Regions from separate parts of the Homo sapiens genome. Here all the other regions are linked to region 1. The links come from fine-mapping of genetic effects on gene expression. A gene starts in region 1. Each other region holds a variant in brackets. All regions are shown on one strand. Distances are from middle to middle.

Region 1 (7,751 bases):
TGGGAACTCCTGGGCCTGTTGTTCGTGTGCGGATCCTGGTCCGGGAGCCTGGATGCGGCTCTGCCTTGCCGACAAGCTCCTGGGCCAGGCCTGGTCCACCAGACCTCCCTATGCTTGGAGTGCCTGCTTGTTGTGCCTGGAGCTGTGCTGGGCCCTTCCTCATTGCAGGGCTGGGGGAGTCACTTAACCTGTCTGGGGCTCAGTCTTCTCATCTGTAAAGTGGGAATGATGGCACCTGGTACCCACTTGATTGGCTGTTGCAAACATGAAACCAGATGGGCCTGTAAATCACAGGGCACTCGGCCGCCATCACCATCATCATCATCAACATCATCATCCTCATCATCATGGCCCCAGCTCATCCATCTTTGTTGCCTTCTCCACCCCCATCTTCCATCCTTGGAGAACTGTGCCTCTTGAATTGGCCTCGTGACCTAGTAAAGATCATAACAAAGACGCCTAAGTTGGTCTCAAGGCACCCTCCTTACTACCCACCAACTGAGGGAGGATTCTCGCCTAGTCCCAGCAACTGGCCCCGGGGAGGAAGTACCCTTCCCAGTCCTGGCACGTCTCCAGCAGTGCTGGCTGACGGCAGACTACCCTTGAAGCTCAGTTACTGCATTTGTGGAGAGGGGTGAAACCCCTGCTCCAGCCCAGGGGCCATCTGAGATCACACCCCCAACCCCAAGGCCAGGGTGGATCTCCCTGCTTGGCCCTGGGGTGGTCCCTGGGCAGATGAGAGGGTCCTTCTGCCTGAGCCTCTGAGGCTGCCCTCACTGCAGAGCTCGTGGTCAAGGGGTGGGTGGGCAGGTTGGATCCCCTCAAGGGCACAGGGGTTAGAGTCTTAGAGACTTAGGGTGAGGGACATGGAGAGTGATGGGTTTCTGGGACCCTGAGCTGGCCCTGGCAAGGCCCACAGGGAAAGCTGTGGAGCGCAGTCATCTCCGTGGCAACTGGCCTCATCGTCCTTGTCCTGGCTTGGGGGCCGCACGCCTTCCCTTCCCTTTCACCGGCTGGAGTCGCTTTCTTCAGAGGTAACCATGGCAACCCCTTTGTTTCTGAGGCCTGCCCGCCCTCCTCCCCGTTCTCTCTTCAGGAGAGGCTCAGCCAGCTCCTTCCTGGTCCCGGCACGTCTCTAGTGGCGCCGACTGACAGTGGCCCACCAGTGAGTGGGGCCAGCCCCTGGGGTGGGGGAGAACGGCCCTGCTGGGCCCAGAGATGTGGCCTGGGCCCCACCCCTGCCACAGAGGCCACGTTCATTGGCTCACTCATGCCCTGAAATTTATAGAGAGTACCCACGTCTGCCACGGGGCCACAGATGGGGCAAAGGCCTGTCCCTGCCTCCATGGCCCTGCTAGGGGCAGCCTGGAAGTGGGGAGACAAGGCCTGAGGAGGGGGTGCAGAGGCCCAACGGGGGCTGGCTTTGCTGCAGGACGCACTGCGGGGTCACGGGTCATCTGCCAGAGCTCTCAAGGCCACAGGAAGCCCAGGACTCTTGGCTTTACCTCAAATGGGCTGAAGCAGAAACAAGCATGTGGTTCACGTAACTGAAAAGTCAAGGAAAGGACCTGCTGAGGTGCAGCAGGGTCCACGTGACCCGGCCGTGGTTGCTCCGGCTTTCCTCTGGGCTGGCTTCATTCTCGTGCAGCCCTGTTCTCGGGTAGTGAGATGTGGAAGACTGGCCCCTTCCCTCTCTCACCTAACCCAGCTCTGGAGAGGTCTGTGGGCAGATGGGAGAGTCATTTGACTTCAGCCTCCCCTCCGGTCTGAACTCTGACCCTACAGCAAAAGTCCCAGGACTGAGCCTCTTTGGCTAGAACTGGGTCACAGGCTGACCCCTAAACCAACTGCTGTGACTATGTAGCCAGCCTGGTTTATGCCACTCCACTCACCTCAAACCAGACCCATGACTTCAATGAGATGTTGACAGGGGAACCCTGGTTTGCAGATGAAACTGAGTGATCACAGACTCAGAGAGGTTAATTAATTTGTCCAAATCCACACAGCTGGTAAAGAATGCAAGCTCCAGGTCTGATTCCAGAACTTCTGGGCTTAACCCTGGAGCCACTGTAGGTCAGTGGGAGTCCAAAGGGTTTTAAGTATGGTGGTGAAACGGTCGGGGATGCAGCTGGAGGGGTAAATTGGCGCTGGATTTTGGTTGGCGGTGAATGGCATGCAAAGGAGGTGGACGATATTCAGGATTTGGTAGGACAGTGGAAGCAGCTACGCCCCAGCTATCGCACGGTCCCCAGCATTTGTAGGAAAAAGCCCCCAGGGCTTTGGGTAGCCTCGCAGGCCCGCACTGCCGCCAGGACGCAGTGCACCTGAGGGCGGAGCACCCACGCCCCGGGCCACCTGACTCACTGTTTGTCAACTCTGCTCTCTGCAGCCACGCCCTTTCCTCCTTGCCTCCCTCCCCTTTTGGCTCAGGGGCGGCATAACCCCGCCTCTCTCCTGCTGTGACTGGCTGTCCTTGCCGTCACTCCGCTGCGTGGGCGGGGCTCTGAGGGGGCACAGGTAGAGGCCCTTCGCGAAGGGATTAGCATAGTCCCACCCCCCGGCGCGAGCCTCGGGCCGGGCGCTGATTGGGCAGGCAGCGGCCGACGCGGCGGCGCCGGGCGCAGCGAGTGGCGGGCGCGGGCTGTCAGTCGGCGAGGCGGCGGGCCGCACTTCCGCCTCGGTGTCAGTGGGTCGCGGGCCTACGGGGCGGGGGCGGGGCGGCAGTGAGCTCGGCCGGCAACCGAGGGACCCGCGTCCAGGTGAGTGGCCCCCGCCGCCGCCACGCGAAGGCCCGGGACCCCGGCGAGCTGCGGGGCCTGGGCCGCGGGCTGGGGCTGGAGCCGGGGCGGGGAGGGGAGGGCGGGCCGGGCAGGACCCGGGTCCGCAGGCCGCCTCCAGCCCCGGCCCCGGCCCCGGCCTCGACCCCCACTGGGAGGCGCGCCCGGCCTAGGCCGCAGCCTGGCGCCCCGGGGAAACTTTGGGAGGAAAGTTCCGGCCGGGCGTGGGGCCTGGGCCTGGGTCCCGCGGCCCCCGCACCCTTCCCCCTGCGGTCGCCCGGCAACTGCGATCCCGGGACCCCCGGCCCGGCCCCCCCGAGATCCCCAGCCCCCCTGCTGCCCCGCTGAGCAGGAAGTGGGGACGGGCGCACCTGCTCGCGGCCTCGCCCTCTCTCACCACCTCACCGGGAACAGGGAAGGATTTCGTGCGCATTTAGGGCGATCCTGTAGGTGAGGAGGGCGAGTTCCGCCGGGAAGAAGGGCAGGGAGACGCAGTCCCACTCCGACCCTGGCCTTCTTGTCCCGCAGGCCTGTGTGCACGTCGTCCCGGGGAGGGTGCCCGCGAGCCCTTGTCCGTTCCCCTGGGCTCTGTTTTTGTTTTTAATTTATAAATCTTAGCAGACTACACACGGTTGAGAACTTGCTACCTAAAACCTATCTTTGGTAATGTAATTTTAAGAGGTTCCTTCTTTCGCCAGTTATATTTTGGTACTCAGAAGAATACGTCTTTAGACTTTCCAAGTTTATAAGCCCAGACCAAGACTGTTAGGTCGTCACAGCACCTCAGCCTCCCCGCTTCATGGGAGGACCGGCGACGAGGCAGTGGGTGTCGGGGTGTTGCAGGCTCTCCTGGGGTGAGGGTCACCTCCCAGGGGCGTTTCTATCTGAACCGTCCTCTAGGACAGGCCCTGGCCTAGCCTGGCTCCGGCAGCTTTGGGATGACTGCCCGGAACACCTGGAGAAGGGGTCCCATTCGGTTTGGTTGGATAGACGTTTCTCGAATGCCTGCTGTGGGCCTGGCTGGGTGCTGTGCGGCCTTCCCACCAGCTGGATGTGTGGTGAGGACAGCGGAGAGTTGAGGAGCCCGGAACTGGTGCAGGGGCCACATGCTGGGAAGCCACGGCCGTCCCTGCTGCCCTTCCTAACTCGTGCCCATGGCCTCTTTTCTGGCTGTCAGCCTCAACTCCTTCATCCGGACATGTAGCACTTTGCTGATAAGAGAAGCAAACGAGATCATTTTCTTGTTTTATGTTTTGAGATGGAGTCTCGCTTTGTTGCCCAGGCTGGAGTGCAGTGGTGCGATCTTGACTCACTGCCACCTCCGTCTCCCGGCTTCAAGCCATTCTCCTGCCTTAGCCTCCCATCTAGCTGGGACCACAGGCGCCGGCCACCACGCCCGCCTAATTTTTTTATTTTTAGTAGAGATGGGGTTTTACCATGTTGGCCAGGCTGGTCTCGAACTCCTAACCTCAAGGGATCCGCCTGCCTCAGCCTCCCAAAGTGCTAGGATTCCAGGTGCGAGCCACCGCGCCCTGCCATGAAATCATTTTCTACCACAGTCTCTGACACCTAGTGCGCACCCCGGAATGCCAGTTACCTTCCCCTTGTTGAGGACAGGAACTTTGTCGGTGGCACTTCCTCCCTGCCCAGCCCAGTGCCTGCCACAGTGTCGTCTTTTAGAATGTGGCAATGAGTGAGTGAGTGACTGAGTCTCCCTCATAGAATTTACCCTGTTTTCTTCATGTGTCCATCTATTAATGACAGCTCTTACCCCAGCAGACGATAATATTTAATAATGATTGTTCCAGGACTGTTACGAGCATGTCGTATTCACTTTCTTTGTGTGATCTTCACAACAGTCCACTGGGCAGGTACTGACATTATCCTTAGTTCATTCATGAGGAAGCTAAGGAACAGAGAGGTTAAGTAACTTACCTAAACCACACAGCAGTAAATTATGAAATATGGATTTGAACCCAGGCTCCAGGGTTCACACTCTTAAACACTACCCTGTACTGCCTTTTAATATCAAGATTTTCATTTAACATTTTCGTTTAGAATATTCTAATCATGCTGCATTACTCTGTGTCAGAATTTCGGGATTTTGCTACATATAGAACTAATAGACTTTCTTTTTTGTGAGCCTGAGTGTTTACAAAGCCATTTCATTTTTTCTGAAATAAAGTAATTTACCGTTTGACCATTCAGGATTTTGCCAGAATACCTTCCCTGCCACCCAGCTCCTTTGTTACTGGCAGATTCAGTGGTGGTCTCTGTGTGAAGAGGGAGGACTGAGGGGCATGGGTGCTGACAGGCGTACAGTCCAGACTCTGAGGTCTCCGTTCTGAGTTCAGTTCCAGGGGACTTCACACACTGCCTTAGAGTACACACGTAGGACATTTTTCTTCCACGCCTCGAGTGCGTTGAGAGGGTCAGACTCTGCTGTGTTCCACATGTTAATGAGAGGTGCTGTTTGAATGTGAAAAAAATGCCACTTGACTTTCATCCCAGTGTCTCTCCTCTGTGCCGTCCAGGAGATGCCAGCAGATGGGTCTTGGAATTTTTTTTTTTTTGAGATGGAGTCTCGCTCTGTCGCCCAGGCTGGAGTGCAGTGGCGCGAACTCGGCTCACTGCAAACGCGAACTCAGCTCACTGCAAGCTCTGCCTCCCGGGTTCACACCATTCTCCTGCCTCAGCCTCCCAAGTAGCTGGGACTACAGGCGCCCGCCACCACACCTGGCTAATTTTGGGTCTTGGATTTGTCATTAAAGCTTGCTCGACTTTTAAAGTTTTAGTACATTCAGCCAATTACAAAAGTGACATTTTGTATAAGGGAATTGTTGACACATTTTAGGTTCTTATGCTGTCTTCAAGCAGGGAAGCTGCCATCTCCTCAAGGTGATTTCTTTAATGTCCCCATGCAAGCCATGTCTTGTCTGGCCGTGCAGGCACAGCTGGCGCCGTGCCTTCCTGAGTCACAGCATCTTTGCGAAGGTGGTGCGCCAGACCAGGGCTCTTGGGTCCTGGGTGGGTTCCCACTGGCTCCTGCCTTCAGTGTCTTTGCCTGTAAGACGGATTACTATGTGGAATCTGTGAAAATATAACATCAAGTGTCTGATACGTTGTGGGTGCCTGGGCCGCCCTTGGCTCCAACACCTGCTGAAGCTGGAGCCTCTCAGCAGTGCAGCAGTCACACCCTCAGGTGTCCCGGGATCTTTGGGTGTGGGCTGATTTTCTCCTAGTCATTGTCATACTTCCTGTTTGGGTGTTGACATTTCGTTTAGTGTTTAGCACAGATTGTCAGGTACGAGGTTTAATTCCAATATGTAGTACATTTTCAGGTTGATTTATAACCTTATCTACACTGAAAGGAAGTCAGTATTTGAACATGACTGATTATTAAAAAGGACCGAAGTCCTGAGTTAATATGGTGGGTTCTGGTTTGATAGTTTAAATGCACTTTCCACATATGCTAGTTGATTTGTAAATCTGCTGTCATTTTTGCTTTTTCAGAGTGTTCTTGCTAGTGAGTTTCAGGCATGGTGTCCCGGCCTCTCAGGCTGCTGGTTTGGGCTAGGGTCCCACTGTGGAAGCGTGGTGGTGTCCCGGCCCACCTCTGCAGCTCTTGATAATAAAAGCATCTGTTAAATAGCTCACAGCACTGTTTGCGTGAACTTTTTGGCACTTCTTTCCTTTTCCTTCCAGATTCAGAAAAGAACTTGGGATCATTCAGCAGAATGTCACAGCATCCACATTCTTTCCGCTGGAGCTTCTGCTGATGCAAATCCTGTGACCTCTGAGTTGAGCTGAGTGGTGGAAGTGAGCTTTTATAAGGGACTGGATCTGAGACTCGTGCCTGATGTTTGTGGCTGTTTCTCTTTGCTTGCCTTCTGTTTTCAGTGGAACACTCGCTTGATGTATTTTGAGAAACAAACTCTGGGATCAGTCCTGTTGAGCTAGTGGCTGGCTCCATAGTTTGGGGCCTGAAGAGGTTCCCGCACCCTCAGGGCTTGTGGCGGTCATCAGGCCTCTCTCCTGGGTGTAAGGTGTGTACTTCTCACCTGCGCACTGAGGGCCTGGGGGCTGTGGCCCCGACGCTGAGGCAAGTCAGGGGTGGGAAGGGTCTGAGGGGCTCTTGGCTGAGCAGACACTGAGCACATTTCTTTATCAAAGGCGCTGGGACTGCAACCTTCAGGGGTGCCCAGAGAGCGCCTGTTGTGGGCTCATACGGGGAGTTCTTGGAGGAGCACCAGGCAGGGAGGACTGTAGTGTGTAGGGAGTTGTGTGGAGTTTTGGTTCCAGAAAAGACGGAGGCAGCTGTAGAGGAAGGAGGACTATGGTGTGGAAGTGAGTGCCTGTGCTTTGTACTGAATAAACCTAAGGCTGATCCAAGGCTGATCGTGAGAAAGAGCCCCCTGTAACCTGGGACCTTGTGCCACTGTGCTCGGCCAGAGAGCAACTTCCATTATTGCCTTAAAACTAGGGGGACTGTGATTCAGTGACATTTCGGTGACTCCGATAATGACGGCAGGTGTCAGGTGCGCACAGGGCGTGGGGCTACCCTCTTACTGTGAAAGAGGACACGGGCTGCGTCTGTGGTGGCGAGCTCCTGCGAGTGCCCTGGCTCTGGCTTGGCCTCTCTTGATGATGTAGCAGAGCTGGGAGTCTCGCTGTAATCATCACCCGTCTTCCAAGTAAGTCTCACCTGTGGGAAATGCTGGAACACCTGAGCGGAAGCAGAGCCAGGGCAGTGCCTGAGCTGGGGCCAGGGGAGGGGTCCCAGTGCAGAGGTGCCCGAGGAGCCCTAGCGCCTGCCCCGCAGCCCCTGCCCCGCAGCGCCTGCCCCGCAGCGCCTGCCCGGCAGCTCCGCCTCTTCAGTGGCTCGGCTGTCAGGGTAGAAGGCTCCTGGGTTAACATCATGGAGTTTTCACCCCTGCTTCTCATCAGAAAAGCTGGGGGAACTTTTTAAAAAGT
Region 2 (7,751 bases), 54 kb before region 1:
GCCAGTTTTCAGAAGTGCTGACAAATTCATATTGGTATGCAAAAGCTCATCACCCATTAAGGTTTGTTGTTGAATCAACAGTACTCAGCATATTAAAACAGTACATCAGAACTCATGCCAACAGTCTTTATGATGGGATTAAGGTGGACAAGATCTCCTAAGATCTGTGAATGGGATTAAGGTGGACAAGATCTCCTAAGATCTGAAAAGAAACCTTAATACGCTCATATGGTTGGAGTGTTAAGTGAACCTCTGATTTTGTCAGGGTTTTTCTACGTGTAGGCGTGAATAGGGGGCACCCCTTCAAAACTGTACAAAGAAGACGACTGTTTTCCATTTCCATTTAAACATTTTTAGCCACTTCATTTCTATTTATTGAACAGGTCAAATTTGTCTTGTTATTTGTGAGTACAGTACATTTAAAAAACATCCTTATCGGTTATTTTTTTTTCAGTCGGAGTTTGACGTATAAATTGTTTATGCTTTTGGTGTAATCTCTTAATAAACTGGTTCTTCAAAAATCATCCTATAAAGTGAGTTTTCATGAAGTTAACGGGATTTTGGTGTGATGTGTTTTGCAAATACTTATTACCGAGACCAGGTAGATCGTCACCTCGGCTCCCGGGCAGAGTTCGCGTGCGTCCGCACCGGATTCCCCGCGGCGGCAAGGCGAAGCCAGGGTAAGGGCGGTGGGGACGGCGCCCCGGGGCTGCCCTGCGGTCCCCACTGCCTGCTCTGCGTTGCCCCGTAGCCTCCTCGGGCAACGGCGGTGTCCTCGTCAGACCCGGGAGGTTCCGCAAACGCCGGAGGGGTCAGAGAAGCTGGGGGACCTTGGGCACCGGGTGGAACGGGCGGGGCGGCTGTCCTTGTGCTCGGGCAGCGAGGGCGCCGGCGAGAAGCGCGGCTGCAGCTGAGCGCTCCGCATCCCTCCTGCCGTTGCTCCTGCTTCCGCTACCAGGGACAAGGTCGCCTCTCGGTCCGTCGGCGTGTTTTCTGCACCTGCGCACTGGGCAAGCCTTGGGCTTCCGGAGCCAAAAGGCCCCGGAAGTGGTCGGCCGCTTGCGACGCTCCGGAAGTGACGTGCTTTCCCGAGCCGGTGAGTGCGGGAGCGGGGAGCGGGGAGCGTGGGCCTGGGGGGTGGTCGCGGCCCGGGCGCAAGGAGGGGCCTCGGCTTGGGCCGCGGGGTACCGGGGCGCTGGGAGCGGGAGAGGCCCCGGCCTAGGAGCTGAGAGGCCTGGAGGGCTGCCGGGCTGCGAACCCCGGCGGGACCGAGCGCTGCGGCCCTGGAGTAGCGAGCGCTCGGGCGGTGGGGAGCGGCGCCTTGCTCCCCGGTCCTGCCCCACTCTCTCCGCAGAACCGCGTTTTGGGGTCAGAAGTCTTGTCAGCCACCCCGGTGGTGCTCTGTCACGGGATGGGTGCCGTGTGTGAGTTCCGAGTCAAGTTGTTAGGAATTTGCCTTGATCCAGCGCTCTAAGTATTAAACATTTTAAAGTGATTATTGGCAGTATACAGTTGCACAAAACAACATAAATATATACACATTTGGATGATAAAACAACAATAAAGTTTTGTATTGTAAACGCGCCTCAGGGAGACGCATTTCCAGATAATTCACTGTCCGTGGCTGGCTTCTGCCCAGTGAGAGCGGGTTACCCGTTCTATTCCCATTTACGTTCTCGTAGCTGTGGATACCGAGGAACGGCGTTCACACAGACCTGTAGGTGGGAATTAGAGGGGTTGTTGGGCAGTGTCACTAGAGAAATACCTTTCTTTTGTAAAGGGGAGGACCCATTATAAAAGGGGGACGGGAAAGGAGAATTCAAATTGTTTTAAACGCAGGTTCGTCCTCAGGCAGTTCTGTTTTAGCAGAGAGAACGTAGCGAAACTTGGGCAGAAAATGGATTCCTTTGAAATTATCCTGGCCTTAGTCCCTTGGGAAGTCTGTGTAGGCGAACCTCAGTGAGAAGATTCCTGCCGTAAAATGCAGGTGTCAGCAGCATGCCAGGGAGGCCAGAGGATACTATGTGACTTTGGGCAAGTGACTGAACCTCTGTGAGTCTCAGCCTCCACTGCTTTAGATGGGCATAAAAAATGTAAAGTCAAGAATCAGGTTTCCGCTGGGCGCGGTGGCTCACGCCTGTAATCCCAGAACTTTGGGAGGCCAAGGCGGGCAGATCACGAGGTCAGGAGTTAAAGACCAGCCTGGCCAACATGGTGAAACCCCATCTCTACTAAAAATACAAAAAAGTAGCCGGGCGTGGTGGCAGGCGCCTGTAATCCCAGCTACTGGGGAGGCTGAGGCAGGAGAATCGCTTGAACCTGGGAGGTGGAGGTTGCAGTGAGCCGAGACCGCACCACTCTGCTCCAGCCTAGGCAACAGAGCGAGACTCTGTCTCAAAAACATACCCAAAAAAAAAAAATCAGGTTTCATGCTCACAGGAGGATTTGAGGAGGGTTTATAAAGGGACCGTTTGCAAAGGCAGAGTGCAGGTTAATGACAGTTGGTCCTTTAGCCTGGAACTGGTGGCAGTGGAGTTTCTACTCCTGGACTCCAAAGGATCAGGGAAGGCAGCAGTGATCGGGACAGGGAGAAGAGTCACTGGGGAGGGCTTCTTGGACTGGAGGTGTGAGCCTCAGTCTGAGTGGGCAGGGAGGTCCATGTCCCGGCCTCCTGCTCCTGCCTCCAGTCTCTGGTAGAGGGCCAGGTCCCAGTAGGTTTTCCTATGGGGCAAGCTCAGGCTCCTGACACACAGCACAGGGCAGGGTGGAAAGCTGGTCTGGAAAAGCAAATGGAAGATAGCTCGGCATGCAGTATTACCCCTCGCAGGGTATTATCGTTAGGAATACATTTAAAAGTGGATATATTGGTTGGGTGTGGTGGCTCGCGCCTGTAATCCCAGCACTTTGGGGGGCCGAGGCAGGTGGATTTCCTGAAGTCGGGAGTTCAAGACCAGCCTGGCCAACACGGTGAAACCCCGTCTCTATTAAAAATACAAAAATGAGCTGGGTGTGGTGGTGGGTGCATGTAATCCCAGGTACTCGGGAGGCTGAGGCGAGTGGATCACTTGAACCCATGAGGCGGAGGTTACAGTGAGCCAAGATCCCACCATTGCTCTCCAACCTGGGCTACAAGAGTGAAACTCTGCCTCAAATAAAAAAGAAAAAAAATGGCCAGGGCGTGGTGGCTGATGCTTGTAATCCCAGCAATTTGGGAGGCTGAGGTGGGCGGATCACGAGATCAGGAGTTCAAGACCAGCCTGGCCAACATGGTGAAACCCTGTCTCTACTAAAAATACAAAAATTAGCTGGGCGTGGTGGCATGCAGCTGTAATCCCAGCTACTCGGGAGGTTGAGGCAGGAGAATCCCTTGAACCCGGGAGGCAGAGGTTGCAGTGAGCTGAGATCATGCCACTGCACTCCAGCCTGGGCGACAGAGCGAGACTGTCTCCAAAAAAAATAAAAATAAAAAATAAAAAATAAAATATATACACATACATATATATACATGTATATGTATGTACACAAATTAGCTGAGCGTGGTGATGGGTGCCTGTAATCCCAGCTTCTTGGAACGCTGAAGCACAAGAATTGCTTGAACCCAGGAGGCGAAGGTTGCAGTGAGGTGAGATCATGCTATTGCACTCCAGCCTGGGAGTGAGACAGAGTGAGACTCTTGTCTCAAAAAAAAACCTTTCTGTGATGAGGGCAGTGTTCTAATATGTGCTGTCCCATATGTACCCACTCGTGACATGTGGCTGTGTGCACTTAGATGTTACCTCAGGGACTGAGTTTTTACATTTCAGTTAATTTTAGCCAAATGGCCACATTTGGCCAGTGGGGACTGTGCTGGACAGGTCAAGGACAGCCTTGTTGGAAGGAAAATAAAGACACCAAAGAGCAGCGTGAAAACAGTGGGATTTGTTCATCCGGCAGGGGAGAGAGCACAGCACTCAGCGGGCCTCCAAAGAGAAATTGAAAGGGCAAAAAGGAGGAAGCAAATTAGGCAAGACTCCGAGTTCAGGTCTCTGGTTGGCTTTGCAACCTTCTCTGCGGTTGATCTGCAGGTTCCATGTCACCTGCATCAGGAAGCCTGGTTTCCAGAATATC[CG/C]GGCTGGATGGTGTAACGTTCCAGCAGGCTGAGCCGTGGCTATGCTTGTGTTGATGAGCCCGAGTTGTTTTTCCCCAACCTGTTTTTATGCACCACCCCTGAGCCTTCCCATCTGATAGCTCTGGGTTAAGTCTCTTCACCTGTCTGCCCAGTTTCCGCAACTTTAAAATGAGGATGATGAAGGACTTACTTCACAGAGTTTTATGAGGACTGAATGAGTTAATCCCTGAAAAATACTTAGAACAGTATTTTGCAAGTAGTGAGGTAGAGGTCTTGAAGGTTTACTGTGAAATTATTTTCAGGTACTTTTTGTATTTGGCACTACCATAAATGGGGTTTTTTCTTAATTTTAATTTACAGTTGTTTGCGGCTGGTATTTAAGAATACAACTGATTTTTTTATATTAGCCTGATAACATGCCATCTTGCTCAGTTCCCTTCCCTGGGACTTTTTTTTTTGTTTTTTTTTTTTTTTTTTGAGATGGAGTCTTGCTCTGTCACCCAGGCTGGAGTGCGGTAACGTGATCTCGGCTCACGGCAGCGTCTGCCTCCCAGGTTCAAGCGATTCTCCTGCCTCAGCCTCCCGAGTAGCCGGGACTACAGGCACGTGCCACCACGCCTGGCTAATTTTTATATTTTTAGTAGAGATGGGGTTTCACCATGTTGGCCACGCTGGTCTTGAACTCCTGATCTCAAATGATCCGCCCACCTCGGCCTCCCAAAGTGCTGGGATTACAGGCATGAGCCACCGTGCCCAGCCTTCCCTGGGATTCTCTGTGGAACTCTGTCCTCTCTTCTGTAAACAGGGACAGTTTTACTTCTTCCTTTTTTCCCCCTTTATTTCAGTGTGTGAAAGGACATTGTTGCATAGCAGTGGTATGTGTGGAGGCCCTTTTTCTCCATCTTGGGAGGTAACCATTCAGTATTTCTTCATTAAATGTGATTAGCTGTCGGCCGGCCCTACGTAGTGCCCTTATCAGGGCGAAGATGTTCCCGTCTGTTCCCAGTTTGCTGAGATGTTTTGTTTTCCTCCTCATGAGTGGGTGTTGAGACGGTGGTACCACCTGTTGATATAGTGAAGTGCCTGGGCTGAGTTTTGACTGCTTGATGTGGCCTTGTGTTCTGAGATTACCCCTACTAGGTCTTGATGTGTGATCCTTTCTGAACTGCTGGATTCAATTGGGTAATATTTTGTTAAGAGTTATTTGCATCTATATTCATGAGGGGTATGGTCTATAATTTTATTTTTTCTTAGTGTCAGATTTTGGTACTAGCCTCATAGGATGAGTTGGATAGTGATCTCACTTCCTCTATTTTCTGAAAAAGCTTGTGTAAGATTGGCACTGTTTCTTCCTGGAATGTTACATGGAATTTACCAGGAAAACAAGCCGAGCTAGAGTTTTCCTTTGGGGAGTGTTCTTTTATAAGAAATTTAACTTATTGAGTAGATACAGGGCTATTCTAGATTGTTTATTCTTGTGTTTCTTTAATAAGTTGCCTTTTTCAAGAAATTTGTCCATTTCATGTAAGTTGAATTTGTTACTGAATTTGCTGGCATGAAGTCGTTCCCAGCATTCTCTTGCCCTCTGGCTGTCTGTAAGGTGTGTCCTGATAACCCGTTGAACATTCCTGACAGTGGAGGTTTGCGCTCTCTCGTTTTCCTGATCAGGCTAGAAGTGTGTTAGTTAGCTTGTCTTTTCAGTGAACCTGTTTTTTTCTGTTACATGTTATTGTTGTCTCTTTATTTCTGCTCTGTATTATTCTCCTCCTTCTACTCGACGCTTACTTTGCTCTTTCTGGTTTCTTGATTTGGAGCCTTAGGTTACTGATTTTAGATCTTTCTTCTTTACCAAGGTAGCCATTAGAGCTGTAAGTTTCCTTCTAAACACTACTCTAGCTGCATCTCTTAAATTCTGGTATTTCATGGTGGCGGGCGCCTGTAGTCCCAGCTACTCGGGAGGCTGAGGCAGGAGAATGGCGTGAACCCGGGAGGCAGAACTTTCAGTGGGCCGAGATCACACCACTGCACTCCAGCCTGGGCGACAGTGCGAGACTGTCTCAAAAAAAAAAAAAAAAAATTCTGGTATTTTGCATTTCCATTATAATTCAGTTCAAAACATTTTGTAATTTCTCTTTTGATTTCTTCTTTGGCCTATGGATTATTTAGAAGAAGCTTGTTTGATTTGCAGGTATTTGGGATTTTCCTAGATATTTTCTAGCTATTGACTTCCAATTTAATTCCGAGAATAGACCCTGTGGTTGGTATTCATATACTTCCCCCCAGCCCCACCACAGAAGCTCTGTCACACAGGCTGGAGTGCAGTGTGTGATCATGGTTCACTGCAGCCTCCAACTCCTGGGCTTAAGTGATCCTCCCACCTTAGCCTCCTAAGTAGCTGGTATTATAGGCATGCACCACCATGTCCAGCTAATCAGCTAATTTTTTTTTTTTTTTTTTTTTTTTGGTAGACACAAGGTCTCGCTATTTTGCCCAGGCTGTTCTCAAATTCCTGGCCTCAAGTTTTTCTCCTGCCTTGGCCTCTCAAACTGCTGGGATTACAGGTGTGAGCCACTGTACCGGGCCTTTCTGTATACTTCAAGTAATCTCTAGATTATTTATAGTACAATACAATGTAAATGCTATGTAAATAGCTGTTATACTTTATTTTTTAAATTAAAAAAATTGTTGTATTGTTACTGGTTTTTTTGTTTGTTTTCCAGATATTTTTGACGTGAGGTTTGTTGACCCCACAGATACGGAGGACTGACTATGATTTCTTCTCAATGTATTGAGACTTATGACACATCTTATGGTCTGTTTGATGACTTCCACCTGTACCTGAAAACAGTGTATATTGTACAGTTGTTGGATGTACTGTTATGTAAATGTCAACTAGATAAATGTTTTGATAGTATTGTTCAGATTTTATGTCTTTACTGTTTTTATTTTTCTATTTTTAGACAGGGTCTCAGGCCAGGTGTGGTGGCTCATGCTTGTAATCTCAGCACTTTGGGAGGCCAAGACAGAAGGATCGCTTGAGACCAGCCTGGGTAACTGGGAGACCCTGTCTCTGCAAAAAAAATTTAAAAATTAGGCACAGTGGCACTTACCTGTAGCCCCAGCTACTCAGGAGGCTGAGGCAGGAGGATCTCTTAAGTACAGGAAGTCAAGGCTGTAATGAGCTGTGATTATGTCACTGTGCTCCAGCTTGGGTGACAGAGTGAGACTCTGTCTCAAAAAAAAAAAAGAAAAAAAAGTGTCTCTTTCTCTCATTCTATTGCTCAGGCTGGAGTGCGGTGGCATATTCATAGCTCATAGCAGCTTTGAATTCATGGGCTCAAGTGATTCTCCCACCTCAGCCTCCAAAGTAGCTGGGACTATAGGGGTGCGCCACCATGCCCAGCTAATTCCTTTGGTAGAGACAGGAGTCTTGCTATTTTGCCGAGGCTGGTCTCGAACTCATGGCTTCAAGAGATCTTCCCGCCTTGGCCTCCTACAGTGCTGGGATTACAGCCAGGAACTGCTGTGCCCAGCTAGCTCTTTTTAATCCACTTTGTCAACCTCTGCCTTTTAATTAGAATTTGTAAACATTAACTTTTTTTTTTTTTTTTTTTGAGATGGAGTCTCGCTCTGTCTTCCAGGC
Region 3 (5,000 bases), 29 kb after region 1:
GTAGTAGCTCATGCCCTCAGGAAAGCTGAGGGAAGAGGATTGCTTGAGGCCAGGAGCTTGAGACCAGAGCCTGGGCAACATAGTGAGACCCCAACTCTACAAAAAAATTTAAAAGATTAGCCAGGCATGGTGGCACATGTCTGTCATCCAGTTACTGGGGAGGCTGAGACAGGAGGATGGCTTGAGCCCAGGAGTTTGAGGCTGCAGTGAACTGTGATTTCACCACTGTGCTCCAGCCTAGATGACAGAGGGAAACCTTGTCTCTTAAAAAAAAATAAATAAAGATTCTAGGACCAAAAGCATCTTTTCAACAACATGAAGTGATGTATATTGCATTCCCTAGGTGAGGGTTGTGGAGAGATTGAGGTGAAAGTTTCATGTGAGCACGTAGGACTGGCAAGCATAGTAGAAAGGCGCTGGGAGGGGCCTTGTGGGGCAGCTCCACCCCTTACACTTCACTTTGAAACACTCCCCTTTGGAGGCTTTGGTGGCACTCCACTCTTTTTACTACTTCTCAGCTTGTATTGAAAAAACACAAGCACACTTGGCAACGTGGACAGTCCCAACATAGACAGACTCAGACAGTGGTGAGCTCATGTCCCCATAGCTGGATCTGCAGTGATTGGCTGTGGCTCGTTCTGGATCCGCAGTGATTGGCTGTGGCTCGTTCTGGATCTGCAGTGATTGGCTGTGGCTCGTTCTGGATCCGAGGTGATTGGCTGTGGCTCGTTCTGGATCCGCAGTGATTGGCTGTGGCTCATTCTGGATCTGCAGTGACGGGCTGTGGCTCTTTCTGTTTGGTCCACACCCCCCACTTCTCTCCTCCCTCGTATTTTGAAGCAAATTCCAGACATCTTTTGTTTGTAAATATTTCTTATGTATATTTAAAGGGTAAGGATTCTTTTTTAATGTGACTGTGATATTATTATTATACTTTAGAAAATAACTTTAGAAAGTCATTTAATATCATCAGATACTCAATCTATGTTCAAATGTCCAGTGGTCTCACGTGTTGCCCTCTGGTGTTTGCAGTCCTGTGTCTGGACCTTGTTTGTGTCCCTCTGTCAGGAAGCCTTTTTGTTGCTCTTTCTCTGAATTTAAAAGCTGTGGGCAGGCCAGGCGTGCGACGGCTCACGCCTATAATCACTGTCAGAGGCTGAGGCGAGAGGATCGCTCGAGGCTACGGGTTCAGAACCAGCCCGGGCAACAAAGTGAGATCCCATCTCTACAAAAAAGAATTAGCCGGGCATGGTGGCGCATGCCTGGGCTCCCAGCTACTCGGGTGGCTGATGTAGGAGGATCACTTGAGCCTGGGAGGTTGAGGCTGCAGTGACTGGTGATCACATTACTACACTCCAGCCTGGGTGACAGAGTGAGACCCTGTCTCTAACAAACAAACAAAGCTGTGGGCGCTCAGAGTCTGGGTCCACTAACTCACTGGGAGTTGCTAGTTGGAGCTGTGCCAACATGATCACCCTTTATTGATTGCCGGGGATAGTTCTGGATGTCTTCCAGTCCACAAATTGTTCCATCTTTGGTCAGTGAGAGTCTCTTCAAGGTGGCCCGGAGTCCTTTACAAAAGGAGCTTCAGGCCTATCCTGTGCGTTTACTGTTTGGGGTCTGGCATCATCTACTTGTCCAGGGAGAGAAGGAGAATTCAGGACCACAGCCGGGCTCTCAGGAGGCCACCGGGGTAGTCTTATTTCGAGGTCTGTTCCTACAGCTAGGAACTGTGTTTTTGTTTGTTTCAGTGATGCTTCAAATTTGGGCCAACAGGCTCCACCTAACCTCTGCGGCCTCATGTCTGCGTCTCTTTTCTCCCTCACTGACAGTCCCAGTTTTCTGCAGCCCTGGCGAGGACAGATTTAGACCGGCACGCAGTTGTGACTCACTCACTTTGCCCCACATACCTGTGGGACCAGCTCTGCTGCCGACAGTGTCTTTGCTGAGACAGCACATGTCTGTGCCTCCTGCAGTTGCCACTTGTCATTGTCTTCAGGGTATATCTCAAATGTCTGCATTATTTTTTATTTATTTATTTTTTTGAGGGAGTCTCGCTCTGTCGCCCAGGCTAGAGTGCAGTGGCGCGATCTCAGCTCACTGCAACCTCTGCCTCCTGGGTTCAAGCAATTCTCCTGCCTCAGCCTCCTGAGTAGCTGGGACTACAGGCGCCTGCCACCGTGCCCGGCTAATTTTTTTTTTTTTTTTTTTTTGTATTTTTAGTAGATACGGGGTTTCACCTTATTGGCCAGGCTGGTCTCAAACTCCTGACCTTGTGATCCGCCCACCT[C/T]GGCCTCCCAAAGTGTTGGGATTACAAGCGTGAGCCACCGCGCCCGGCCAAATGACTGCATTTTAAAACCACCTGGGTGCTTCTTCGCTGGGTGATTGTGCCACCAAAGGAATGACATAGGTTCATTTGTTTCATTTTTGATATTGAGAGATGACTTTTTAAAATTTAATTTTCTTTTTAAATTATGGGTCCTGCATCAAATTTATCAAGCAAGGTATATTCCAGGAGAGTCAGCTTCCTGTCCCTGTCCCCTCCTGGTGCTCTCTGCTTTCCCCACAGGTGACCAGGAGCCAAGTTTAGGGCATGTCTTTCATGCGTCACACAGCTGATTCTACATGTATCTTCTCCCCACTTCTCCCCACTTCTTTACATAAATGAGAGGCTTTCTCCACCTTTTAAAATTCAATAGTATATCCATAGCAACATGCAGTGACTTCTTAATCTATTTATTTATTTATTATTTCTTTTTAGAGACTGAGTCTTGCTGTGTCGCCCAGTCTGGAGTGCAGTGGCAGGATCATGGCTCATTGTAACCTCAAACTCCTGGGCTTAAGTGAACCTCCCACATGAGCCTCTGGAGTAGCTGGGACTACAGGAACCCACCACCATGCCCAGCTACTTTTAAAAAATTTTTTGGCAGTGGCTCACGCCTGTAATCCCAGCACTTTAGGAGTCTGAGGCAGGCGGATCACGAAGTCAGGAGTTCGAGACCAGTCTGGTCAACATAGTGAAACCCTGTCTCTACTAAAAATACAAAAAATTAGCCGGGTGTGGCAGTGCATGCCTGTAATCCCAGCTACTTGGGAGGCTGAGGCAGGCGAATCGCTTGAACCCAGGAGGCGGAGAGGTTGCACTGAGCCGAGATCACACCATTGCACTGCTGCCTAGGCGACAGTGTGAGACTCCAACTCAAAAAAAAAAAAAATGTTTTTTTGTAGAGACGGGGTCTCACTTTGTTGCCCAGGCTGGTCTTAAACTCCTGGCCTTAAGTGATCCTCCCCGCCTTGGCCCTGCAAAGTGTTGGAATTACAGGCGTGAGCCATCTCGCCTGGCCGACTTCTGAATCTTTTAATGGCGCGGCGCTCCCTCACATGGCTGCCACCTAGCTTATTGGACTGGCGCCCTGTTGTTGGACATACGGGTCATTTCTGATCTTTCATGGATCCAGCCGTGCGGCAGCAAAGAGCCCTGCATGTGTGTTTGGCCGAGGCTCTGTGGGATAGGTTCCTAGAAGTGGGGCTGCTGGGTCAGGGGCAAATACCCGTAGAGTTTGCTAGAAGCAGCCCAGTCCCCTCGTGGGGCTGCATCACTGTGCATTTCCACAGCAGCCGGGGGGCTTTCCCTGGGTGGGAGTTGCACACAGTTGCGATACCATCTCTCCTCTCCTGAGCAAGGCAGCGTCTCCCCCATGCTCAGGGCTGCCACCGGCCGCACTTCCCGGCCTCCCTGGTCCCAATCTCTGGCCGCTGTGGACTGTGGCCTCTTCTAGTTTACCAGGCGTTTAGAGCACGGGAGGCTGTTGATCCTGGTCTGGAATGTAAATTGCAAATGCTCCCCCATCTGTCTGCTTTTCTGCTCATTCTTTCGGGGCTTCCTTCTTTCTCTGCCACGTGTTCTTGCAGTGCCGAGCTCTGATCACAAGGGTCACCTCTCTTCCTGCTTTCCTCGGCAGCCACATTCCCTTGTGCAGTCTTGGCCACACCCATGTGCCGGGGCTGCCTCAGTTGGAATCCAGTTCTAGCCCCTCCTAAGCCCACAGTCCCCGTGTGTCCAGTGCCATCTGGGGCCTGCTCGCCCCTGCAGCAGCCTGAGCCGCAGGCTCTGTGCGTCTGCCCTGTGCTCTCAGCCTCGGTCCCTGCACTCGTCCTTGACCCAGTGTCTGAGCAGAGCCCCCCTCCCAGCACGGACGCTGAGTTTTGGGAACCTCGCGGCCCAGGCAGAGCGCGTCCTTGTGGTGCTGTGCACACCCCGCCCACCCTCCGTCCACCCTGCGCATGCAGTGCCTGTGGTGTCCTGAGGCCTTGGTGGGGCCGTCCTAGTCCCTGGTGCAGACGAGGAGCCTGAGAGGCTTAGCAGCTCATGTGTGTGTCAGCTGGGAACCCACAGCAAGTGGATTCCAAAGCCTGCCATGTCCCTGTTGCCACTAGCACCTCCTCCTCCACTCCCTCCTGGCCTCTCTGGGTCCTCTCCTTGTCCCTCCTGGCCTCTCTGGGTCCTCTCCTTGTCCCTCCCTGACCTCTCTGGGTCCTCTCCTTGTCCCTCTCTGGCCTCTCTGGGTCCTCTCCTTGTCCCTCTCTGGCCTCTCTGGGTCCTCTCCTTGTCCCTCTCTGGGTCCTCTCCTTGTCCCTCTCTGGCCTCTCTGGGTCCTCTCCTTGTCCCTCTCTGGGTCCTCTCCTTGTCCCTCCTGGCCTCTCTGGGTCCTCTCCTTGTCCCTCTCTGGGTCCTCTCCTTGTCCCTCTCTGGCCTCTCTGGGTCCTCTCTGACCTCTCTGGGTCCTCTCCTTGTCCCTCTCTGGGTCCTCTCCTTGTCCCTCTCTGGGTCCTCTCCTTGTCCCTCTCTGGCCTCTCTGGGTCCTCTCCTTGTCCCTCTCTGGCCTCTCTGGGTCCTCTCCTTGTCCCTCTCTGGGTCCTCTCCTTGTCCCTCTCTGGCCTCTCTGGGTCCTCTCCTTGTCCCTCTCTGGCCTCTCTGGGTCCTCTCCTTGTCCCTCTCT
Region 4 (7,743 bases), 58 kb after region 1:
TGAGTTGGGGGAACACACTCCTGCACCCAGAACAGGGCTGCGTTTTCCTTTTGGGCTGAGCATCTTCTGACCCCCCTCCCTTGTATCCGGCAGGTGGTTCTACCCAGGCAATAACCCCTACACTGGGACCCCCGACTGGTTGTATGCAGGGGATTACTTTGAGCGGAATTTCTCCGACTGCCCAGATATCTACTGAGGGCCTGGAGGGGCCTGGGGCCCGGGACCGGAGGCTGACGAGGCTGGACTTCCTCGAGTGGCCACTGTGAGCCTCGTCACAGCAGAAACCAACTTTTCTAACGACTGAGTTCGCGGAGATAGCATCATCCCTGATCAAGGATGTAATTCTAATTAACTGTTGATTGCCAAACATTTCACTCTGCTGTGCCGTCTCTTCATAAAGCTTCACTTGGGATCATCGTCTTCATTAAGGTTTCAACAGGGAAATTCTTCACGGCGCCCTTTTATGTGGCAGAAATCAGCTGGGGCTTGTTTAGCTTCCAGCACACTCTCAGTCATAGCATGTGTAGCTAAAGGAAGTAATGGGAAGGGGTTCATGTTCTCTTTATAATGCAGTGGCAAAAGGTTCTGAAAGCCTTTTAAACTCGAACCAGTGGGGGAAAGATGGATCTTGAAGCTAATCCTGCAGAGAGTTTTATAGAGGCCAGGGATTGCCTTCTAAATTATGATAAAACAGAAGTGAAGAGTTTCAGAGCATCAGATTGAGTGAAAAGTTGTCAGATTCTGTATTTTTTAACAATCTTCAATAATGTAAAGATTACTTTTAAAATATTTAAGTTAAAACTACTTGAATAGTATTTTGCTGAAGAGCAAGATATGCATTAATCACCGGTTTTATACTGTCCAAAATGAAGCATCCCCGTGACAAACCAGAGTGGGCAGAAGCATCGAGAGCGTGACAGGAAATCCCAAGACTGCTTCCGCCTCAGAGGCGTCCCGGCTGCGATTCGCTGCCCTGTTGTCAGTGAGGCCTGGCTGTCACCGCACACCGCGTCCGTGTCTCCAGGGGGTTCCTTTCTTCTCACACGTCGCGTGTACCCATAGCACTCTTGTGTTTCTGTTTTTCCCAGTATGCATGTTTAAAATAGAAGTGACAAGAATCACATCCGGTTGTGTCCTGTGGGAGGGTCAGAGGCAGAATCTACTTACAGTGGTGTAATTAAAGTTATTTAACCAAAAATAGGTATGTGTCCATCTCAGCATTCACCTTTATCAAGTGACTGATTTTTTTTTCTTTTCTTTCCTTTTTTTTTTTTTTTTGAGACGGAGTTTCACTCTTGTTGCCCAGGCTGGAGTGCAATGGCATGATCTCGGCTCACCGCAACCTCCGCCTCCCGGGTTCAAGCGATTCTCCTGCCTCAGCCTCCCAAGTAGCTGGGATTACAGGCACGCGCCACCACACCTGGCTGATTTTGTATTTTTAGTAGACACGGGTTTTCACCATGTTGGTCAGGCTGGTCTCAAACTCCCGACCTCAAGTAGTCTGCCTGCCTCAACCTCCCAAAGTGCTGGGATTACAGGCGTGAGCCACTGCGCCTGGCCGTGACTGATTTTTTTTCATGTAGAATTGTCAACACGAGAGATCACAGTGGAGCACTTTGAAAGACCGTCGGTTGTGTGCACGCACGCACACACTCATGCACACGCTGACACGCGGTTGCATGGAGTCCAGGTTACTCAGGCCGGCACTTCTGAGTGACAGGTGCCACCTGCGTGTGTCTTGGCGTCCACATCACACCTGTGACGGAAGCACTTCTGGAAGTGAACACTCGTTTTGAAAGCTTGATTTTGTAGCTTTGGAAGCTGGAAGCGATGGTGTTTGGTGCCGAGTCCTGTGTCATCCTCGGGGCCTATGAGCTCCGTACCAGCCACTCAAAAGTGTCTGAACAGAACCGCTCCGTGACTGGTAGCTGGGTCTGAGGATTCAGGATTGTGGCGTTATTCAAAGAGGAGACTTTGAAATTCCCCGATGGCTGGAATGTGGAGCCCAGGTGCCTCTGGTGGAGGGTCATCTGCTTTTCCAGACTGTGGTTGTGAACCGGCTCCTTCTCCAAGAAAGGTTGCAAGC[TG/T]AGAACATCCAGAGGTGAGACTCAGACACATTGAAAGTGACTGCATTTAGGGAGGTTTAACGAGTTCTTACTGATCATTCCACTTGTTACTGGTTAAGATAATTTGCCCACGGGTTTGTTTCCAAGTCCTCTTCTAGGACCAGGCTCCTGGTATTTCAGGGGCTGGTTGGCTGCACAGACAGCCCCTCTTCTGCTGTCCTTGAGGACAGACACCAAACCAGAGGTGGAGGAAGAACGGTAGGAAGGCTGATGGCAAAAGCGGCTGTGTGTCGAGGTTATTTTAACTTTTTACTACTTTTTGTTACTGTTTCTGCAAATGCTAACACATAAACCATGACCTAACTTTTGTCACCTTGGATATCTATTGAATGTTAAACATCTCTAATAAAGATGGCCACCACTTAATGTGTGGAAAGTGATGGCCTTCTCGTGGGCCACGCGTTTGGGTGTGAGTATGGCCTTGACCAAGGGTCTTGGTGCTTTATTCACTTTTAGAGATAGGGTCAGTTGCCCAGGCTCGAGTGCAGTGGTGCAGTCATAGCTCACTGCAGCCTCGACATCCTGGGCTCAAGCAGTCCTCCAGCCTCAGCCTCCCAAGTAGCTAGGACCATAGGCACATGCCACCAAACCCAGCTATTTTTTTAAAACAATTTTGTAGAGACAGGATCTCACTGTGTTGCCCAAGCTGGTCTTGAACTCCTGGGCTCAAGCAATCCTCCTGCCTCAGCCTCCCAAAGTGCTGGGATTACAGGTGTGAGCCACTGTGCCAGGCCCTTGGTTCTTTTAAAAAATTAATCCTGTCATGTAGGATGTCCTTACAGAATGAAAAACCTAGCAAGCTTATTCCCCAACAGAACCTAATACCTTGGTTGGATTCTATTGCTAATTGAAATGAGAATTCGGTTCTATGGTCATTGGTTCAGGGTGTATGTATTGTGAGCTGCTGGAGACAGAACGGTGAACAGGCATGCCTCCCGGAGAGCCATATGCAAAGCACGGAGAGCCACATGCAAAGCACGTGTTGGCAACATAGCACATGCTGCTGCTCACCAGGCTCACCTGGGATGACGGTGTGGATCTGAGTCGCTGGCCACGTGGCGACGTCTGCCCTGCCCTAGTGTCCAAGGACGGTGAAGGGTCGGGTGTCACCAACACCTGCAGCCTTCTCACCGGGCGAGGCTTGGGTTGTGGGAAGTGGGGGACAGCTGGCCCTGGTCCCCAGCCCTGATGGACATCCGGCATTTTGCTGGTGCAGGCTGTCCTGAAGCCAGACCCTCCCGAGACTGCTGTCTGGGAGGAGAGCGAGCCAGCGGCCCAGATGCCTTGGTCGTGGGGAGGTGCCTGTGTGTACCGTGAGTTTCCCAGCCTCCGGCGGCAAGTGGGAAAGCCGGTACAGGAAGAGTGGTGCCTGCAGGTGCTCCCGGTCACCACCACCCCTTCCAGACGCCATCCCCAGAGCTCACATCTGTGCTGGCTGGAGGGTCAGGGCTCCACTCTGCCCGACAAGCAGTCTGGTGCAGGGGACGCAAATGTCAGACCCAGCAGGGCCCGGCACTTGGAGAAGTGCCACATGCCACCCTGGTGGCCTCCGGGCACCCCACTGTCCACGTGTCTGAGCATGGAGCTGTCCATCTGGGGCATTGGCCTTGAACACCAAGGACCTGCCCCGGTTTGCCAGGCACATCTGAACACAAGGTCAGGAGGTTAGAACAGGACAAGAGAAACGCCTGGAGGCCTCCTCACAAGGCATCCTGCTCTTTGGGGAAAATTTCTCCCCAGCAGAAATGGGGATTTACAAGTTTTACAGGTCCTTGTCATTTCCGTGAAGGAAAACAAAGCAAAGACAGTTACGAGTTCTGGTGAGCTTCCCACTGAGCTGGGCGACAGAGTTCAGGTCTCCAAGTGCCGGGCCCTGCTGGGTGTGACATTTGCGTCCCCTGCACCAGACTGCTTGTCGGGCAGAGTGGAGCCCTGACCCTCCAGCCAGCACAGATGTGGACGAGGGGCGCAGCTGGACCCCAGAGGAGAGTTCGATCCATCTGCAGGAAGTCCTGATGGTCCCAGTTTTCTTTGATGGCCACATCTGGACTTGCCTGTGTGTAAAGTGGACACAAAAGACGGGGCCCCTGCCGTGGCCGAGAACGTGGCGGTGGCTCCTGCTGCTTGCCAGGCAGCACGGGAGCTGGGTCTCCCTCGGACCCCTCAAAAGATGGTTCCTCACCGTCTTCTACAGGCTGATGTAAAATTTCTGTGAGGCGAAAGCCACATTTGCCAGCTCTGGGTACGAAGTTCACTTCACAGTCGGTCCTTCGCTTGGTGAGCTTTGGGAGCCAGGCTGCCGTGGCCAGATGTTTAGGAGCACGACGGTGGCTCTGCAGAGGGCGATGGTGTGCAGCCGGGCTTTCCTGTCGCCCACACCTTGCAGGCCCTCACCCCTCCCCGTGCCTTCACCCAGCTCCTCCTCCAGTGCCATTCATCCCAGCAGGCAGCAAGGACATGGCAGCTGAGAAAAGATGCCAGCAGAACGCACTTATTTTATAATATTTAACAACTGTCAGTGCCAAACTGCATTAACACAGTCATCCTCAGATTTTTCAGAGGGCTGTGTACACATCTGTGAAAATAAATGTTAACCTCTAAGATTTGAATGAAGATTCTCTGAAGATGGGCAGCAGGTGACCTTTGTTTTACACTGAGCAATTTTTCACCATCTCAGCCGCTCTGGCCATTTTGAAAAGGGCTACAAATCTGCTAAGGATGAGTCCTCATGCCTGGTTATCAGAAGTTTGGACCGCGTGTTCCTGAGGATTGGCCAAGCAAATGGCTCATTTCCAAAAACTGCCCTGTGGAGAGGGGGCTGGGGGACACTCGTGACACCTGTCGGGCGGCACATGTGATGGGTGGAGCACCCAGGTTCTCCAAGCAGCAGGAGGCTCTGATGGACCCCCCTCCCCTGGCGGGGGGACGCTACTGCTAGAAGCAGCGAAGGGCCCGGTGCCCCAGGTTTCAGCTGCCTGCCTTCTGCCGTAAGTTGCCCCAGCACCTTCGTGCTTTTCAGGAGCGTAAGCTGAGCAGACTCAGTCGTCCCAGTGGTCAGTGTGGCTGGGGCAGAGGGACACACGGTCCACAAGACGTCCATGCTCTCGGAATGCTCCAGGGGTTTGGCTGTGGGGCTCCACCACCATTGCCTGAGCCCGGAGCCAGAGGCTCCTCCCACACTGCCTGGTCTGCCCCACAGAGCATCAGTGCCACGCCAGGTGAGGACAGCGCTCACCAGACAACCAGGCCTGCCGCCCCACTGACGCTGACTTCCGGACCTGCAGAACTGTGAGAAAGTACGTTTCGCTTCTTTGTAAACTGCCTGGTCAGTGGTGGCAGCACAGATGGACCGACGTGGACCTCGACGCGAATGGCGGGCTCTGGGCGCTGACCCGGTGGCGGCGTAGCTCACCGAACACCCAGGGGGACCAGAACTCTCTGCCTTCCACTCAGTTGTGACTTGTCTATTTTTAAAATGTTAAAAAAAAAAAAAACCCACAAGGTGCAGTGGCTCACACCTGTAATCCCAGCCTTTGGGAGGTTGAGGCGGGTGGATCGCTCAAGCTCAGGAGTTCGAGACCAACCTGGCCCACATGGTGAAACCCTGTCTCTAATAAAAATACAAAAATTAACCGGGTCTGGTGACACATGCCTGTAATCCCAGCTACTCAGGAGGCTGAGGTAGGAGAACTGCTTGAACTCAGGAGGCGGGGGCTGCAATGAGCTGAGATCAAGCCACTGCACTCCAGCCTATGGGATAGAGTGAGATTCCATCTCAAAAAAAAAAAAAAAAAAAAAAAAGTTTAAAAAACCCTACCCCTGCCAAATGCTTTTCCGAAGTAGCCGTGCCATTGGTGTTTCCAACTTTGCCTGGCACCTTCCATCGTTTGCTAAGTTCCAGCAGGTGTATTTCATTTGCATTTCCCTCATGAATAATGGTGTTGAGCAGCTTGCCATGGTGCCTTTGCTGCCTGTGACCTCTTTGGTGAAACATCCGGAGGTGTCTTCTGCCCACGTGGAGGCGCAGCCTGGGCTCTGCCGCCCACCTTTCACCCGAGGAGCCTGCAGCACGTGGAGAGCATCAGGGTGTGCTTTCTTTACAGTTTGGGGCTTTTTTGAGACAGGGTCTCGCTCTGTCACCCAGGCTGCAGTGCAGTGGTGCCATCACGGCTCACCGCCAGCCTTGACCTTCACCTCAGCCTCCCAAGTAGCTGAGACTACAGGCATGCACCGCCATGGCTGGCTCTTTTTTAATTTGTCTTTTTCTAAAGACAGGGTCTCACTGTCTTGATTAAGCTGGTCTTGGAACTCCTGGGCTTCAAGGGACCCTCTCAGCTCGGCCTCCCAAAGTGCTGGGATTGCAGGTGTGAGCCATCATGCAAGTCTGGGGTTGTTTTTTTTTTGCTAAACAGGATGAATAGAAATCTCTTTTGGGGGATCTCTTAGTCCAAATCCTTTAGCTGAATGCGCGTGTCCCGGTGAGGCTGCTCCTCTAGATGCTGCGGGCATTTTGCAGACGTCCCACCAACTGCCATCAGCGACCAATTAGAAGATAGGGACAGCTGCACATGTCACACAGCCCTTCTGACCTTGTGTGTGCTTCAAGTCCGAGATTCCTGACACAAAGCAGCGTGTGCCCCCCCACCCACTCTGTGGCCACAGCTGGAGTCCTGGGCTGCTGGGTGCTCCAGGTGCCATACCCCACACACGCATAGAGCCCGTGGGCTGGCAGCGGGCACCCACAGTGGCCTCTGCAAAGCCTGCCTGGCTGCGGCTCGTTTCCTCACTGCAGCATGCTCATAGGAATGTGGGAGTTTCGCTTGAAGTGTGGGTAAAGAGTTCTGGGGTTGTTTGAGCCATCCCAGGCCACAGGGCCTCCAGGAAGTGGAGGAAATGGTAAATCCAGGGTCCTCTTGGCCACTGCGTTGGCCTCTGCACACTTGGCCCCTGCGGACCCTGGGGCTTCTGCTTTACTGTCTGTGACATAAACAAGTGACGCTTGCCACCTTCTTGCCGGGAAAGCCAGGCTGGGTTTTCTCATTTCCACCTTTTCCCTGTTTTACACGAGGGCACGAGGATGGGGCTGCAGTATCAGTGACGCACCTGTCACCAGCGGGCCACAGAGCTTTGTGTTAGCCCCTCTCAAGCCCTTTAGCTTCTGGAACCGTTTAAATTCTTAAAAATTATACAGGACCCCAAAGAGCTTTTGTTTATGTGAGCTTTATCTATTGACATTTACCATACTAGGAATTAAGAGGACATTTAAAATTATTTAGCTACATAAAAATAACAATAACAAACTTACTACCTGTTAACACACATTTTAAAATGAAAAGTGGCTACATTTTCCAAAACAAAAAACGTGAATCTTTAGCTCAATCAATGTTTCAAATGGAAGCATTATGACAGTCAAAAGCTGGCAACTAAACATAACTGGCACAAGCTCTGCCACCGAGACAATGGAGGCCTGAGTAGTAGGCTCCCTGCAGAATGAAAGGACTGGAGCTGCCAGCATCAACACCAACGCATCTCCCAACAAGGGTGAGTGAAAACACACACCTAAAGACCTCAGAGAGCACGTAAGCACACAGCTGTGCATCCACTCTGAGGGTGAGCC

Direction of the effects. Alleles are on the strand shown, and positions count from the first base shown. SD is a standard deviation of normalised expression in the study named. Not every link is listed here.
As copies of T replace C in region 3, the expression in B cells of the gene that starts at base 2,683 in region 1 goes down (large effect, 1.0 SD a copy in Fairfax 2012).
For the expression in monocytes after LPS of the gene that starts at base 2,683 in region 1, TG is the high allele of the variant in region 4 and T is the other (large effect, 1.2 SD a copy in Fairfax 2014).

Evidence for each region. PIP is the estimated chance that this variant, and not a neighbour inherited with it, causes the effect.
Region 2: its variant is fine-mapped to the expression of OSBPL2 in whole blood (TOPMed, PIP 0.94).
Region 3: its variant is fine-mapped to the expression of OSBPL2 in B cells (Fairfax 2012, PIP 0.95).
Region 4: its variant is fine-mapped to the expression of OSBPL2 in monocytes after LPS (Fairfax 2014, PIP 0.95). The same link has a PIP of 0.9 or more in B cells, CD4 T cells, NK cells and neutrophils.

Annotation. Positions count from the first base shown.
Region 1 is chr20:62,235,839-62,243,589 of GRCh38, forward strand. It overlaps OSBPL2 (oxysterol binding protein like 2), which reads left to right and starts at 2,683. Exons shown (of 14, transcript NM_144498.4): 1 at 2,683-2,759. LOC105369209 (a long non-coding RNA gene) reads left to right here. Exons shown (of 4, transcript NR_160555.1): 4 at 1-463. RefSeq lists a silencer at 2,411-2,810 and an enhancer at 3,508-4,432.
Region 2 is chr20:62,181,962-62,189,712 of GRCh38, forward strand. MTG2 (mitochondrial ribosome associated GTPase 2) reads left to right here and starts at 1,067. Exons shown (of 7, transcript NM_015666.4): 1 at 1,067-1,096. It overlaps SS18L1 (SS18L1 subunit of BAF chromatin remodeling complex), which reads left to right. Exons shown (of 11, transcript NM_198935.3): 11 at 1-553. RefSeq lists silencers at 696-885, 925-1,109, 1,116-1,285. The variant CG/C (reference allele first, on the strand shown) is at 4,108.
Region 3 is chr20:62,265,858-62,270,857 of GRCh38, forward strand. The region is part of intron 4 of OSBPL2 (oxysterol binding protein like 2); the gene reads left to right. Among named protein-coding and RNA genes, the nearest start is that of OSBPL2, 30 kb to the left of the region's middle. The variant C/T (reference allele first, on the strand shown) is at 2,291.
Region 4 is chr20:62,293,692-62,301,434 of GRCh38, forward strand. It overlaps OSBPL2 (oxysterol binding protein like 2), which reads left to right. Exons shown (of 14, transcript NM_144498.4): 14 at 94-2,492. The coding sequence ends at 196. Among named protein-coding and RNA genes, the nearest start is that of ADRM1, 5.4 kb to the right of the region's middle. The variant TG/T (reference allele first, on the strand shown) is at 2,087.